4 linked regions of the Homo sapiens genome follow. The protein of the gene in region 3 purifies or fractionates together with the protein of the main gene of each other region. This does not show direct contact. Each region holds a gene or a part of one and is shown on either strand. Other genes may lie near its edges.

Evidence for each region. The genes of interacting proteins can lie anywhere in the genome.
Region 1: the proteins of GTSE1 (region 3) and AAK1 purify together in Homo sapiens (affinity purification with mass spectrometry; one large-scale study listed by BioGRID and IntAct). This does not show direct contact.
Region 2: the proteins of GTSE1 (region 3) and SYNRG purify together in Homo sapiens (affinity purification with mass spectrometry; one large-scale study listed by BioGRID and IntAct). This does not show direct contact.
Region 4: the proteins of GTSE1 (region 3) and HIP1R purify together in Homo sapiens (affinity purification with mass spectrometry; one large-scale study listed by BioGRID and IntAct). This does not show direct contact.

What each region holds. Positions count from the first base shown.
Region 1 is NC_000002.12:69,462,240-69,465,739, forward strand, and holds part of AAK1 (AP2-associated protein kinase 1), read right to left. Parts: coding exon of another isoform or gene 3,186-3,500; 3' UTR 1-3,185.
Region 2 is NC_000017.11:37,602,919-37,606,418, reverse strand, and holds part of SYNRG (synergin gamma), read left to right. Parts: intron 1-3,500. UniProt on the Homo sapiens protein: Plays a role in endocytosis and/or membrane trafficking at the trans-Golgi network (TGN). May act by linking the adapter protein complex AP-1 to other proteins. Component of clathrin-coated vesicles.
Region 3 is NC_000022.11:46,327,870-46,331,310, forward strand, and holds the end of GTSE1 (G2 and S phase-expressed protein 1), read left to right. Parts: intron 1-818; coding exon 819-1,020; intron 1,021-1,488; coding exon 1,489-1,698; intron 1,699-2,177; coding exon 2,178-2,261; 3' UTR 2,262-2,941; downstream 2,942-3,441. UniProt on the Homo sapiens protein: May be involved in p53-induced cell cycle arrest in G2/M phase by interfering with microtubule rearrangements that are required to enter mitosis. Overexpression delays G2/M phase progression.
Region 4 is NC_000012.12:122,834,202-122,838,256, reverse strand, and holds the start of HIP1R (huntingtin-interacting protein 1-related protein), read right to left. Parts: upstream 2,801-4,055; 5' UTR 2,707-2,800; coding exon 2,614-2,706; intron 1-2,613. UniProt on the Homo sapiens protein: Component of clathrin-coated pits and vesicles, that may link the endocytic machinery to the actin cytoskeleton. Binds 3-phosphoinositides (via ENTH domain).

The DNA of each region.
Region 1 (3,500 bases), on a different chromosome or scaffold from region 3:
GATAGCATTAGGAGATATACCTAATGCTAAATGACGAGTTAGTGGGTGCAGCACACGAGCATGGCACATGTATACATATGTAACTAACCTGCACATTGTGCACATGTACCCTAAAACTTAAAGTATAATAATAATTTAAAAAAAAAAAAAGAATTTCTGGGCCAGGTGCGGTGGCTCACGCCTGTAATCCTAGCACTTTGGGAAGCCAAGGTGGGTGGATCACAAGGTCAAGAGTTCAAGACCAACCTGGCCAACATGGTGAAACCCCATCTCTACTAAGAATACAAAAATTAGCCAGGCGCGGTGGTGTGTGCCTATAATCCCAGCTACTCGGGAGGCTGAGGCAGAATCGCTTGAACTCGGAAAATGGAGGTTGCAGTGAGCCGAGATCACACCACTGCACTCCCGCCTGAGCGACAGAGCAAGACGCCGTCTTGAAAAAAAAAAAAAAAATTTCTGAGTTGGGGTGAGAAATCTCCCTGAGTATTTCTAGGCTCTTCGCTCATGTTTTTGAGGGCTTCACTTGATAATGACCATGGGAAGAATCTGGGGTGCAAAGTTCCACGTGCATTAGCCGAAATTATTCATTCAACTAGAAAGACAATTTTGCATCCACTAATACATAAAAATCAGAAAGGAGAATTGGGAAAAAGCATATTCTTAGAATAACATTTAGCATCCACCAAAGTGAAGGACATAGGTTTCTGGCACAGTTGAAACCTTAGTTGGAAAACCAAACCTTGGCACAGTGCCAATTATTTATCTTTTGATCAGGACATTTGAAATAGGCAGAGACCACCAAAAAAGGACAAAGTATTGAAAAGTAGCTGCTCATTTTTTACTGCCAATATTCCTGAACTTTAAAGAATATCACACCTAATCAACCGCAATAGAATTGGGCATTCAGACTTGATTCTTAGATGAATTTCCAATAATTTTTAAATCATTGATCTGGCTTGGTAAATAGCTCTCCAAACTTCTACAGCTAATGGAAAAATCACTTAACCTTTACTAGAAGTAACAGAAAGCATTAAAGTTGAAACCTAATGCAGCAGTTCTTTCCAGTGAGTTGAACTGCCTTAGCAGAAATCTTCCCATTGAGATACAGGCTTTATTTTTATTATTATATTTTTGGAGACAGTGTCTCACTCTGTCACCCAGGCTGGACTCACAACTCACTGCAGCCTCAAACTCCTGGGCTCAAGTGATCCTTCCAGCTCAGCCTCCTGAGTAGCTACAGGCATATGTCACCATACCCAGCTAATTTTTTTCATTATTTTATTTAATTTTATTTTTTAGACTCGCTCTGTCGCCCAGGCCAGAGTGCAGTGGCGCAATCTCTGCTCACTGCAACCTCTGCCTCCCGGGTTCAAGCGATTCTCCTGCCTCAGCCTCCTGAGTAGCTGGGACTACAGGTGTGCACCACCACGTCCAGCTAATTTTTTGTATTTTTAGTAGAGATGGGGTTTCACCATGTTGGCCAGGCTGGTCTCAAACTCCTGACCTTGTGATCTGCCCACCTTGGCCTCCCAAAGTGCTGGGATTACAGGTGTGAGCCACCATGCCCAGCCTATTTTTTTATTTATTTTTTGAAGGGACAGGGTCTCGCTGTGTTGCCAGAGTTGGTCTTGAACTTCCTGGGCTCAACTGATCCTCCTGCCTCAGCCTTCCAAAATGCTGGTATTACAGGTGTGTGGCACTGCACCTGGCCAGCTTTATTTTAAGGCACTAATAATAAAGGGTATGAAAAAAGCTAGGAATAAGTCAGATCTTTCCAGAAATAAAAGACAATTTTAAAAAACATCAGTTAACCTGTCTGGCCTATTTCAACATCTAAAGAGGATAGAGAATGTAAAAGTTTTCATGCCTACCTGATTCAGCTCTTTTCCATTCTCCCAAACACTTATTTCCATGTCTCAGATTTACATTTCCTCAAAAGGCAGTAGAGATTTGGAAACAACAACAACAACAACAACAACAACAACAAAACCACCCCAAAACAAGCAAGCCTAGTTTGTAGCCTAGTCTCATGATTAATGAATTCCCTAATGCTGGCATTTAGCCCACATACTGAGAGGCCGGAACTGTAACAAGGTGCTCTTTTCTAGTGTTGTAAGGGGAAAATGTATAAGGAAAATTAATTTTTCATAATCAGGTAAATATAATTTGTTAATAGCAAAACAAGAAATTCCGGAGAGAAAAAAGATTTACTCTGAAACACCAGTTCCAGCAGGATTTCCCTACACCTTCCAACGTATTCTACTTTGCCATGAGAAAAAAACTAAATAAATAAAATGGGGTTCAAGTCAGTTAGGCGAGCAAACACCAAAAAACGAGTGATTTCATTGTGGAGGTAGGCATGATGGGGCAGGATTTCCCTCAAGTGGAAATGCTTCCTGTGCACACACACGTATACATGCACACACAAACCTGTACACTCACACTAATTTCAAAAGCATGGATGTGGGGAAAGCCCTGCCAGCATGACTAGACATGAGGAGTTAGCCCATCTGCCTGTATCTCTACACAGGCTCTGACGTACATTCCACACCCATAGACAGTCATGCACGAGAGCCAGCCTGGCTTGCACACAGACTGAGAATCAGATCTGGAGACTCCTAGAGCTGCTGCTTCTACAGGAATTATTAGTAACTGCAGGATTATACTTCCTGTTGATGTGCAGGGTTTTTATCTTGCTCTTCTTTCCAGACATCTCCCCTTTTCAAGAGTACTAAATCTTGATTTAGTGGAGGGACTAATCTTGATTCTTCGATGGGCATGACTTAGAACAGGAGCTACAGGAATTAAAACTAGCAACAATAGGGCCCCTTTGGGATTGGGGTGAAGAAGTATTTCAGGATTTAAACAGTTTCTGTGGGTGGGGCGGGGGGAAAGCAGAGTTCTTGGTGGAAGTGGATGACCTCTGTGAAGGAGATGAAAATGCCTCCAAGTCCAGAAATCAATATAAACAAACAAACAAACAAACAAAAATGAACATAACTTAAAGGGGCTTCAACTAAATATCACTGCAACTGAGTTTGTTGACTCAAGAAATTCTGCTCTGACGCAGGGAATTGAAATATAAGAACTGATAATATTTCTTCTTCAGAAGGCTAAGCTGGGAGTGCCATGGCGGGTATTGAGGGTGGGATAGAGACAAGAGGCTTGAGGCTCAGGTTTTGCTCCTAGGGTTTCTTGCCTGATTTTGAAGGGAAGGGTGCTAGAGCAAATGGATCAGCAGCTGGCAGCTCCGTAGTCCTGGAGGAAAGGGATGTGATAGAAACAGACCCAGCTATCGACTGCTTGTTGGTTTGTGAAACAATTTTGTAGGCAGCAATGGGCTGGGCTTCTGGACTTGGCTCGTCTTCTGGGCTATAGTGACGGGAATACTTGGATAAGGACTGGGGGCGGAATGGTTTGCCAGCCATGGGGCCTGAGACAGCTTCTTTCTGGAGCTGAGGTCCTTTGTTTCTGTCATTAGAATGACCCCCAGATTCCAG
Region 2 (3,500 bases), on a different chromosome or scaffold from region 3:
TCTTTTACAAGCTTTTAGAGGGCTTCCTCATCTTTTCTTCTTTCACTGCTTCTAGCACATTTTTGCACATAAAAAACATTCTGTAAATATTTGTGGATTTCAGCTATATCAAAGGCAAAGAAGTGGTATTTCATTTGGCCCACAGAGTTAGAGGAAGAGGAAGCGGTCAAGAGATCGTCACAGAGATGGGAAGGCCTAGTCAACACTAAGGAAACGATGTACCTGCAGTGCCAGATGACTGTGGCTCTGAGTGGCAGAGAAGAGTTTTGTGAGATAAAACTGCAAAGTAGAGTTGTGCCCAAACTAGAGAGGGCCTTGAGTTTAAACTAAGGAAATTCAGTTTCAGGGAAATCATTTCATAGTTTTAACTTCAGGGGTGCGTCTTGCTAAAGGACCATTTAATTATTGCGTAATGGTCCATCATTTAGAAAGATGTCTCTCACTTGTGCTGCATCAGATGAATTAGAAACCAGAGTCTGGAGGTGGGGAGATCCATTAGGAAGTCTTTATGTAGGAGTTTAGGCCTAAGAAGTGAAGCCTAGTGTCAAATCTAGGTTAGTAGCAAAGGTAACTGAAAAGGAGGGACGGATGAGATAGGTAAGTGACAGAGCTCTGCTTTCATACCGAGATGTCAGTAATATAAGAATTAGTGGTTTTACCTTTGAAATTAAATTGTTGGTCACCTTCCTGCCCAGTTTTTTGCCAAGCTTTTACTGTCTTATTAATGCCTTAACTGCTTATCTAACCAATCTTTAAGCATGTTGTTATTAGTTGTCTAAACATTTCAGAGAAAAATATGAATTTTTCATAGGTCACTAAGCAGTTCGATTTGCTAAATTCTTACTAGAGAAAGTCATGTTTGACAGTATTTTGTTTTTATTTCATTTTCAAAGTAACCTTTATACATCTGTTTATGTATTCATGTCTATGTGATTGTCTTAGCTGAGACTTTAGCAGCCTTGATTCTACGTCCTCATTTGACAGAGGGGAAACCAGACAGGGGGTAAAGGAGATTGCACAGAGCTTCACAGTTACTTTATGGCAAAGCTGGAAGAAAGAAAATATACACGAGTTTCCAATTCTTTTGAGCCTCTAGGCCATATGACTAATTTAAATGTTTAAGCCTGATTTTTAAAAATCTTGACAGCTTGATTACTTAAATGTATTCATTGCTCCTGAATGTATCAATTTTAGCATATGAGTAATGTCTTTAAAAACTGAATACAGGCATACCTCATTGCAGTTAGCAGATACAGTGTTTTTTATAAATTGAAGGTTTGTGGCAACTCTGCATTGAGCAAGTTTATCCGCGCAATTTTTCCACAGCCTGTGTTCACTTCATGTCTCTGTCACATTTTGGTAATTCTCACAATATTTCAAACTCTTTCATTATTATTATTTGTTATGGTGATCTGTGATCAGTGATCTTTGATGTTACTAGTGTAATTGTTTTGGAGCACCACAAACCCAGCTCGTATAAGACAGCAAACGTAATTGATAAATGTTTTGTGCAGTCTGACTGCTCTACCTACCAGCTGTTCCCCGGTCTTCCTCTCCAAGGGCCTCCATATTCCCTGAGACATAACAGTATTGAAATTAGGCTGATTAACCCTACAGTGGCCTCTAAGTGTTCAAGTGAAAGGAAGAGTCGCCCATCTCTCCCTTTAAATCCGAAGCTAGAAATGATAAAGCTTAGTCATTAAGTGTTGAAAGCTGAGGTAGGTCAAAAGCGAGGCCTCTTACACCAGTTAACTAAGTTGTGAATGCAGAGGAAAAGTTCTTGAAGGAAATTAAAAGTCCTATTCCAGGAAACACAAATGTTAAGAAAGTAAAACAGCTTTATTGCTGATATTGAAAAAGGGTGAGTGGTCTGGATAGAAGATTAAACCACCCTTAACATTCCCTTAAGCCAAAGCCTAATTTGAAGCAAGATCCTTAGTCTCTTCAATTCTGTAAAGGCTGAAGGCTGAGAAATAGGTGAGGAAGCTGCAGAAGAAAAGTTGGAAGCTAACAGGTCAGTTTATGAGGTTTAAGCAAAGAAGCTATCTCCATAACAAAAAAGTACAAGGTGAAGCAGCAAGTGCTGATGTAGAAGCTTTAGCAAGTTATTCAGAAGAGCTAAGATCATTGATGAAGGTGGCTACGCTAAACAATAGATTTTCTTTTTTTTTTTTTTTTATAGACAGAGTCTCACTCTGTCACCCAGGCTGGAGTGCAGTGGCGTGATCTCGCCTCAATGTAACCTTCGCCTCCCGGGTTCAAGTGGTTCTTCTGCCTCAGCCTCCCCAGTAGCTGAGATTACAGGCACGCACCACCACGCCAGGCTAATTTTATATTTTTAGTAGAAATAGGGTTTCACCATGTTGGCCAGGCTGGTCACATACTCCTGACCTCAGGTAATCCACCCACCTCGGCCTCCCAAAGTGCTGGAATTACAGGCATGAGCCACCATACCTGGCCAGATTTTCAATGCAGGTGAAGATGCCATCTAAGACTTTCCTAGCTAGAGAGGAGAAGTCAATGTCTGGCACCAAAGGACAGGCTGACTGTCTTGTTAGGGCCTAATGCAGCAGGTAACTTTAAATTAAACCAATACTCACTGACCACTATGAAAATCTCAGGGCTTTTCAAAAGTATGCTAAATCTACTCTGCCTATAGTCCATAAATTGAACCACAAAGCCTGGGTGACAGCACATCTGTTTACAGCATGGTTTACTGAGTATTTTAAGCCCATTGTTGAGACCTACTTCTCAGAAAAAAGTTTCTTTTGAAAACGTTACTGCTTCTTGACAATGTGCCTGGTCACCCAAGAGCTCTGATGGCAATGCATGAGAAGGTTAATGTTCTCATGTCTGCTAAAGCGGCATCCATTCTCCATGAATCAAGGAGTAATTTCTTCTTTCATCTCTTATTATTTGAGAAATTCATTGTAAGGCTATATCTAAGGCTATAACGCCCATAGATAGTGATTCTTTTGATGGAACTGGACACAGTAAATTGAAAACTTTCTGGAAAAGAATCACCATTATAATTTTTATGTTATTTATTGTTGTTGTTGTTGTTATTATTATTATTTTGGAGAGATGAGGTCTCACTATGTTGCCCAGGCTGGTCTCAAACTCATGGGCTCAAGCAATCCTCCCACTTTGGCCCCCCAAAGTGCTGGGATTATAGGTGTGAGCCACCAGACCCAGCCATTCACTAGATTCTCTAAAGAGTATCTAGAAACCTCCTTTTCAGATCCTTGACTCCCGGATTAAGAGCCTTTCTCACTCAGAAGTCTTCCTTGATTTGTCCCTTTTTCTTTCCAGGCTCAGAGAAAGAAGTCCCACTTCCTTTTCAAAGCAGATCCCTTTTGCTACTTTGTTTTGTTTTGTTTTGTTTTGAGACAGAGTCTCCTTCTGTCATTCTGTCTGCTCAGGCTGGAGTGCAGTGGGGCAATCTCAGCTCACTGCAACCTCCGCCTCCTGGGTTCAAGCAATGCTCATGTCTCAGCCTA
Region 3 (3,441 bases):
GAGGGAGAGGGAAAGGCATGGAATGCCAAAGAGAAAATGAGAAACAAGGCCTCACTGAAAACACCAGATCTGATATATAAATAGGAATATGTGTTTAACTATCTTGTATGTTTGTAAGTGTAAATGTAGAAACAAAATTCTGCTTGTTTTTGGAATTTTCTTATGAAACCTCTGAAGTATTAAAAAGAAGGTACTGTGTGTTAGTTGATGGACCTGCGGCTTTGCTGGGTTTCCGGAAGGAATTCAGTTTTGCGTGGCAGGTACTCGAGGACCTGTGGGCAGCAGGCAAGCCCAGCAGCGCCCGTGCAGGGTCCTGTGGGAGACGCCATTGGAAAGCTGGTGTGGGCAGCCTGTACCTGGGGCCTCAGCCCTGATCAGGGCACTGGGCAGCAGGGGAGGGGGCATCTGGGGCAGAAGGAGCCAGCTGCATACCCACCTAGGCCTAGGAGAAGCCCCCCACTAGCTGCATGCGAGGAGGAGCTGGCCGTGGCTCAAGGAGGGGTCCCTGTGTGTGGTCTGGGCTCCCTTCAGGAGGTGACGGGCGTGCGCATTACCTTGTGTTTAGTAACTAGAAAGGAAGGGGCTAACATCAGCCCCTGGTGATGCTGGACAGCTAAGATTTGTGAGCTGAGAGGAACTGGAGAGATCACTGAGCCCCTTCCATACACAGGAAACTGGGGGTCTGGAGGGTGAAGGCCCTAGAGCCGGGACGCACTCCACCCAGGACACTGTTCCTCCAGAGTGACTTGCTTCCCACATCAGCCAAGTGAACGAGCATTTTAGAGACATTTTCTCATAAGTTTTTTTCCTTCCCACAGAACTGAACCAACAAGGGAGAGCAACAGAAAGACAGATTCCAGGCTGGTGGATGTGTCCCCTGACAGGGGTTCTCCTCCTTCCCGTGTGCCTCAGGCACTTAACTTTTCTCCAGAGGAAAGCGATTCTACTTTCTCCAAAAGTACTGCCACAGAAGTAGCTCGGGAGGAAGCCAAGCCGGGTGGAGATGCAGCCCCTAGTGAGGTGGGCAGAACGGGCGCAGCTGGGTTCTGTTAGCTGAGATTCCTGGAGGCTGCTCGGGAAGCCCGTGGAACCCAGGGCTGTGGCTGGCGGAGTTCCCTGCCATGCTTCATCCTGGGGCCAGTGCCTCCGTGCCAAGCAACCCAAAGGGAGGCAGTCAGGACTTCCAGGCCTCCAGGGGAGAAAGCCCTGCATTTGACTAAGGCAAGGGTCAGGGATCAAAGCTGAGGAAGCGGGAAGCAGGGTGGCAGGAGCTGGTGGCTGCTGGTGAGCGGGTATGGACAGGGAGGTGGGCAACAGTCAGAGAGGCACGGCCCACCCCATACAGAGCCTCCTTCCACCAAGGCCCCGCCTGATTCCTTGGCTTTCCAAACCGCCAGCCCACCTGGAACATGAGCAAAGCTCACATTCTCCCAAGATGGTTGCCAGAAAGATGCTGGACTCTGCTCTTAACCTTGGTTTTGTACCCAGGCTCTTCTTGTAGATATCAAACTGGAACCACTCGCGGTCACTCCAGATGCTGCAAGCCAGCCCCTCATTGACCTTCCTCTCATCGACTTCTGCGATACCCCAGAAGCACACGTGGCTGTAGGATCTGAAAGCAGGCCTCTGATCGACCTCATGACAAACACTCCAGACATGAATAAAAATGTGGCCAAACCTTCACCGGTGGTGGGACAGGTGAGAAGTGGCAGGTGGTTCATGTTGACTCAGCCCTGGGTGTCCTCAGTTCTGGGATTGTTCATCCTCCCAGGGCCATCGTGGGACCCTTGAGAGTGGCTGTTGAGTCTTCTCAGCTACACACCTCAGGGCAGGATGCACCTTTGGCAGCCTGAGCTTCTCAAAGATCAGCTGCCTCTGAGGTGCCCTGCCAGGACCCTGCCAGCTCTTGTTGGACAGGGACCGCCTCTCTCCTGCCCATAGACCCCAGGGCCAGATGTGGGACAGAGGAATGTGCATGGTGGGGGCCTGGGCTTCTCCGTGTGTGTCCTGTCTCCTTCCAGCTTCTTAGACGTGGTGGCCCAGAGTGCTTTTCAGTGCACCCGAGCCAGGATGAGCGAGTGGCTGTGATGACCCACGCAGCCAGTCCTCTGTGCAGGGAGGGGAAGGGAGGCCCTAGCCGGATCCACGCTCACCTCCTCCACTCTGCTCTCTTCCAGCTCATAGACCTGAGCTCCCCTCTGATCCAGCTGAGCCCTGAGGCTGACAAGGAGAACGTGGATTCCCCACTCCTCAAGTTCTAAGCCGAACCAAATCCTTTGCCTTGAAAGAACAGCCCTAAAGTGGTTTTCAACCCTCAGAAACAAGCTTTAGGCTGGTCGCAGTGGCTTACACTTGTAACCCTAGAACTTGGGAGGCTGAGGTGGGCGGATTACTTGAGCCCAGGAGTTCGGGACCAGCCTGGGAAATATAGTGAAACTCCTGTCCCTACAAAAAATACAAAAATTAGCCGGGTGTGGTAGTGCATGCCTGTAGTCCCAGCTACTTGGGAGGCTGAAGTGGGAGGATGGCCTGAGCTCAAGGAGATGCAGGCTGCAGTGGGCTGTGATTGTGCCACTGCACTCCAGCCTGGGCACCAATGTGAGAACCTGTCTTGGAAAAAAAAAAAAAGAAACATGTTTTAGTAGAAGTTTTATTTGAAAAAGAAAAATAAGCATAAATATATTCCCAGTGCTGGAGAGGGTGGGCTGAGGGACTGGGGCCAGCACGGACCACCCAAGGCCTCTGCTTCCCGCCGCCACCCTCCTCGCTGCCATTCTCTGGGCTGGAATGTGAAGCCTCAGTCACTCTAAATGAAGAATTTTCTTTTGAATGTTTTGTATGTAAAATAGCAAGTGGCTATTTTTAAAGTTAAGTTTGTATAAATAGTTAGATATTCTAGATTTACATTAAATTGTAAAATAAATGGACTTATTGAAGCATATCTTGATTTTTAAGCTTATCTTGATTTTCAAACATGCATAGCTATTTTTATCACTCTAATCAGTAAGGCTACTATCTAGACTCGAATGCTTTCATACAAGTGATTTTCAAAAATTAGTCAATAAAAATTGATGTCAGTGCAGGCCCAGGCCCGCCCCCAGATACACTAGTTTCTAGGTCTGGGGCCAGCCTAGTAATTGTTACTAGGCACACAGGTGATGCTGACTCGATGGCCTGAGACACACCCCTTGAGAAGAAGCTGCTCTGGGGAGACGAGGGTATGAGTGGAAAGAGGATGGGCGAGGAGGCCGGGCTTACCTGGACACTAAGGTGATGGACGGCGTCTGCTGGGCAGGCCTCGGGGAGGACCCCTCAGCTTTGCTCTCAGCAGGGGCCCGACAAGCTCAGTGGGCAGTGGCAGGAACTGAGTGCCACTGGAAAGCCCATTCCCTTTATTTAGAAAACGAGCTCCAGGAAGCCGCTACTTTGTGTCCATTTCTC
Region 4 (4,055 bases), on a different chromosome or scaffold from region 3:
TTATACACACACACCATGCAACAATCACAGGCACCAGCTCCCAGCAGGCACATGATCGCCTCTCTTCACACTCCTGAGCGCTAACCCCACAGATATTTGCAAACAGGGTGTGTCCTGTCAAAAAAGCTCACAGGAAAGCAATTATCTTCCTCCTGACCCAGGAGCCCAGGGGAGGAAAGCGAGGCTGGCAGGCTAGTGAATATTTAAATTCTAAGCCAGCCTAGTGCTCCTGCCACAGCACACAGTGCTGTGGTCAATGCAAGACAAGCAGCGTATTACAAAGGAAGCCAGGTCCCTGGACTGCATGTGCTATTTTCTGTCCCGAAGGAGACATGGAAGTAACAACCTCAGCTCTCCAGGTCCTTTTCCACCACGGGACCTGGCTGGCGGCTCACCTGATTATTTCTGGGAACGATCTAATTAAATATTAACCACGTACAAAACCTCATTCTTACATTCCTCAATAAGTCACTGTGAAGACGAGCAAACCCAGACAATGAACTCAAACTCCAACTTTCCAGAAAATGGGGCCCTAGAATAGGTAAGACCTGTGACATTCACCCATTACAAAGTTATTCATTGTTAGTGGCCCTCTTAGCCTCTGAGAAAAAACCAGAGCAAAACAAAACAAAACAATCCACCTTCGGAGAGGTGCCTGTAATCCCAACATCTCGGGAGGCCGAGGTGAGGCGGGTGGATCGCCTGAGGTCAGGAGTTCGAGACCAGCCTGTCCAACATGGTGAAACACCTTCTCTACTGCAAACACAAAAATTAGCCAGGTGTGGTGGCGCACGCTTGTAGTCCCAGCCACTTGGGAGGCTGAGGCAGGAGAATCACTTGAACCCGGGAGGCGGAGGTTGCAGCGAGCTGAGATCATGCCATTGCACTCCAGCCTGGGCAACGAGAGAGACTCTGTCTTTAAAAAAAAAAAAAAAAAATCCACCTTCTTGTGTATCAAACCAACCACTAAAATGTGTGGTCCTGTATCAGAGATTCTCTCTTTGACACTCAGGAAGGTTGCCCTTGACTTCTTATCATTTAAGAGTAAGATCAATGAAGTTGGTCCTTCACATCCCATCTCCTCCATGTAGCAATCAGACCTCTTTATACGTCCTCAAAGGCACGAGAAAAAACTCAGTGAATAAACAAAGTTTCTGACAACATCCAGATATGTCTGCCAATTCAGGTTTTCTCCCTATGATCTACAAGTTCTTGGCACAATTAATTATGTATTGGTGACTTTAAATTTTTTTAAAATGACGGGCTATCCGGGCTGAACCAGTTGATGGTGATGAAGATCACAAGGCTAAATTGGTAATTTGCAGCCACCTGGGTTCCAGCACTTCGCATTTCTAAAGCCTTGATATCCTCAGGATTTATTATCGCTTTCTGGGTCAATCCCAAGCACAAAGGTTAGAAGGTCTCCCTGCGTTCTCTCTCATTTCAAAACGAAAGCTGTTGTAGAGTGCGTGTGCTAACTAGATGTGAAGGCAACCGCAGAAGTCATAGCTCTCTGCAAGGACAAGTGGGACGGAACTTGCAAATAGCCGCCACAAACGCAAATGTCACCAACCTGCTTTAGACAGGAGTGGGAGGGGTCCTCTGGCTTCCTTTATCTCTAGAGTAAAATTTTTCAGCCATTTCAGTCTTGGTTGACTTATTTTGGCAAATAAACAAGTATGCCCCCCTCCACCGCCCATCCCCCAAGCCTGAGAGCACTTCAAGAGTTTGTAAAATAAAAAGCAACAGGAAACCAGAAACGCAGCAACGTCTGCATCGTGGGTCCCCGGCACAAACACAAGTACAAAACGCACACCCGCGCCCTTATTTCATTTCTAACGCCTTCCCAGGATAGGCATCATCTGGAAGAGTTACAAGCGTGGGAGGCGCAGGAAGGGAGCCCCAGGAAGTTTCTGTCTGTCGGGCGCCGGTATTTAATGAGGGGGTGTGCACCTATTTATACGTGGGCAGCGCTCGGGCAAACAAGTCTGGCGACATACGAGAAGCTTTTCACCCAGCAAATAATAGGAGACTGTGCAGCCCTGGGAAACCGCTCACGAGAGAAGGAAGCTGGGAGTTTAAGGAATTTCCTTTAAGGAAATTGCCCGTGGGGGCATCGGTTTCAGGGGGTAGGAGACGGGGGCAGGAGCCGGCAAGGAGCGGCACGGAAGGTCGGGGACCCCAGTCGGGCCGCGCCGGCCCCGGGAGCACCTGGATCCCCAGCCCCCTCGACCCCCGGCGCGCTGGGCTCGCGCACACCCAACCCCGGCCCCATCTCCGTCCCCCGCCGCCTCAGCTCCGGCGCTCCCGGCCCGCGCACACCCTGACCCCGGCCCCCTCAGCCCCGGCGCCTCTGGGCCCGAGCGCCCGGCGGGAGCGGGGAGCGCGGCTTCCGGTTCACCTGCGCGCCGGTCGGCTCGGGCCGCGGAGGCCGGCGGGGGGCGGCAGCGGAGCTCTCGGAGAGCCCGGGCGGACACAGGCCCTGCCCCCGCGCCGTCCCCCGCCCCTGGCCGGCGCCTCCCGGGCCCCAGCCGTTCGCGCGTGAGGGGTCAGGGACGCCGCTTGCCCGCCCGCCCGCCGCCGCCCGCCGCCCGCCGCCCGCCGCCCGCTCGCCTGGGTCTTGTCGAACTGCTCGCGCTCGGCCTCCAGGCTGTGGCCCGGCCTGCGGCTCAGCACCCGCGCCGGCACGTTCTTGATGCTGTTCATCCTGCCGCCGCCGCCCGCTTTTGTCCGGCTCCGTCCGCGCGACTCACAGCCTCACGGTCCGGCAGCCCCAGCCTAGGCACCGCGAGGCCACCGCGCCGCGCCCGGGCCCGCCCGCCGGGGAGGAGCCCGCCTCGCCCCGCCCCCAACTCCAGGGCACGCCCCTCCCCCGCACACCTCCAAACCCGCCCCCCGCGCCCGCAAACGCCTCGCCCGCCCCCAACTCCAGGGCGCGCCCCTCCACCCGCACACCTCCAACCCCACCCCCCGCGATCTCGGGACACGCGCCTCTCCCCGCACATCCCCAACCCCCCATCCCGCGGCGACCCCGGCACACGCCCCGCCCCCCGCACACCTCCAACCCCCACCTCACTCACAAGGTTGGGGCACAGGCCAAACGCCCCCCCAGCTCCTCCCCACCTCTAATCCCCTCCCTAAACCCGGAGGGGAGGGTAGGGGAAGGGGGAGGGGGAACCCCTCCCTCCTCCTTCCACCCAGGGTAGGGACCCCAGCCAATTCCCTCTCCCCACCCCTCCTCCGAACTCACTAAGTCTTGTCTGCACCAGGGCAAGATCTGGTTAATTGGAGAAAATCTGGCCTCCATGAGTCTGGTCGGTGGCAGCACAGATAGACGCTTTTTTTCCTTTTTGGTCTTAATGTATGTGTCAAAAGGCACACAATGACACTCTCCCCTCTTTGTGCAATTCTGACATAGCTGCAGCTGTTATCCATGCGGGGATGCAGGATGCATTTCCAGAGACGCCGCCGGCTCCGCAACCGGACACCTCGCCAGCTCCAGGGACAATGGGGGCTGAGGCCGGGCGCTGTTAGGCTGGCACAGAAGGCAGGCGGATCTGAACAGCAAAGTACACCGAGGAGATGCCGCCAGGGGTGGCGTGAGGCTTTTTAAAAACATTATTATTGGCTTTCCCTTAAAATTACTGGTCACAAGACTGAAGTAAAAAAATAAATAAAAGCCCAGAGTCCTCTCTAAGCGTAGCTCTCAGATGGGTATTGTGTTTCTGCTGTTTCCCTTTCCTATCGGAATGCAGATGTGGAATCATGCATAAAGGTCCCTTGCTTTTGAAGGGAGAGGCACCGCCTGCCTGTAAGGAGGAAAATGACGCCCACGTAATCCTGACCCTTGTCTCCCTAGTGAGACTGTAACCTGTCTGAGGTCAGAGACCCTTTCCTTTCCTTTCCTTTCCTTTCCTTTCCCTTTCCCTTTCCTTTCCTTCCTCCTTCTTTTCTTTCTTTTCTCTCTTTCTCTCTCTTCTTTCTTTCTCTTTCTTTCTTTCTTTTCTTTTCTTCTCTTTCTTTCTTTTCTTTTTTTTTAACCGAGCTTCACTCTT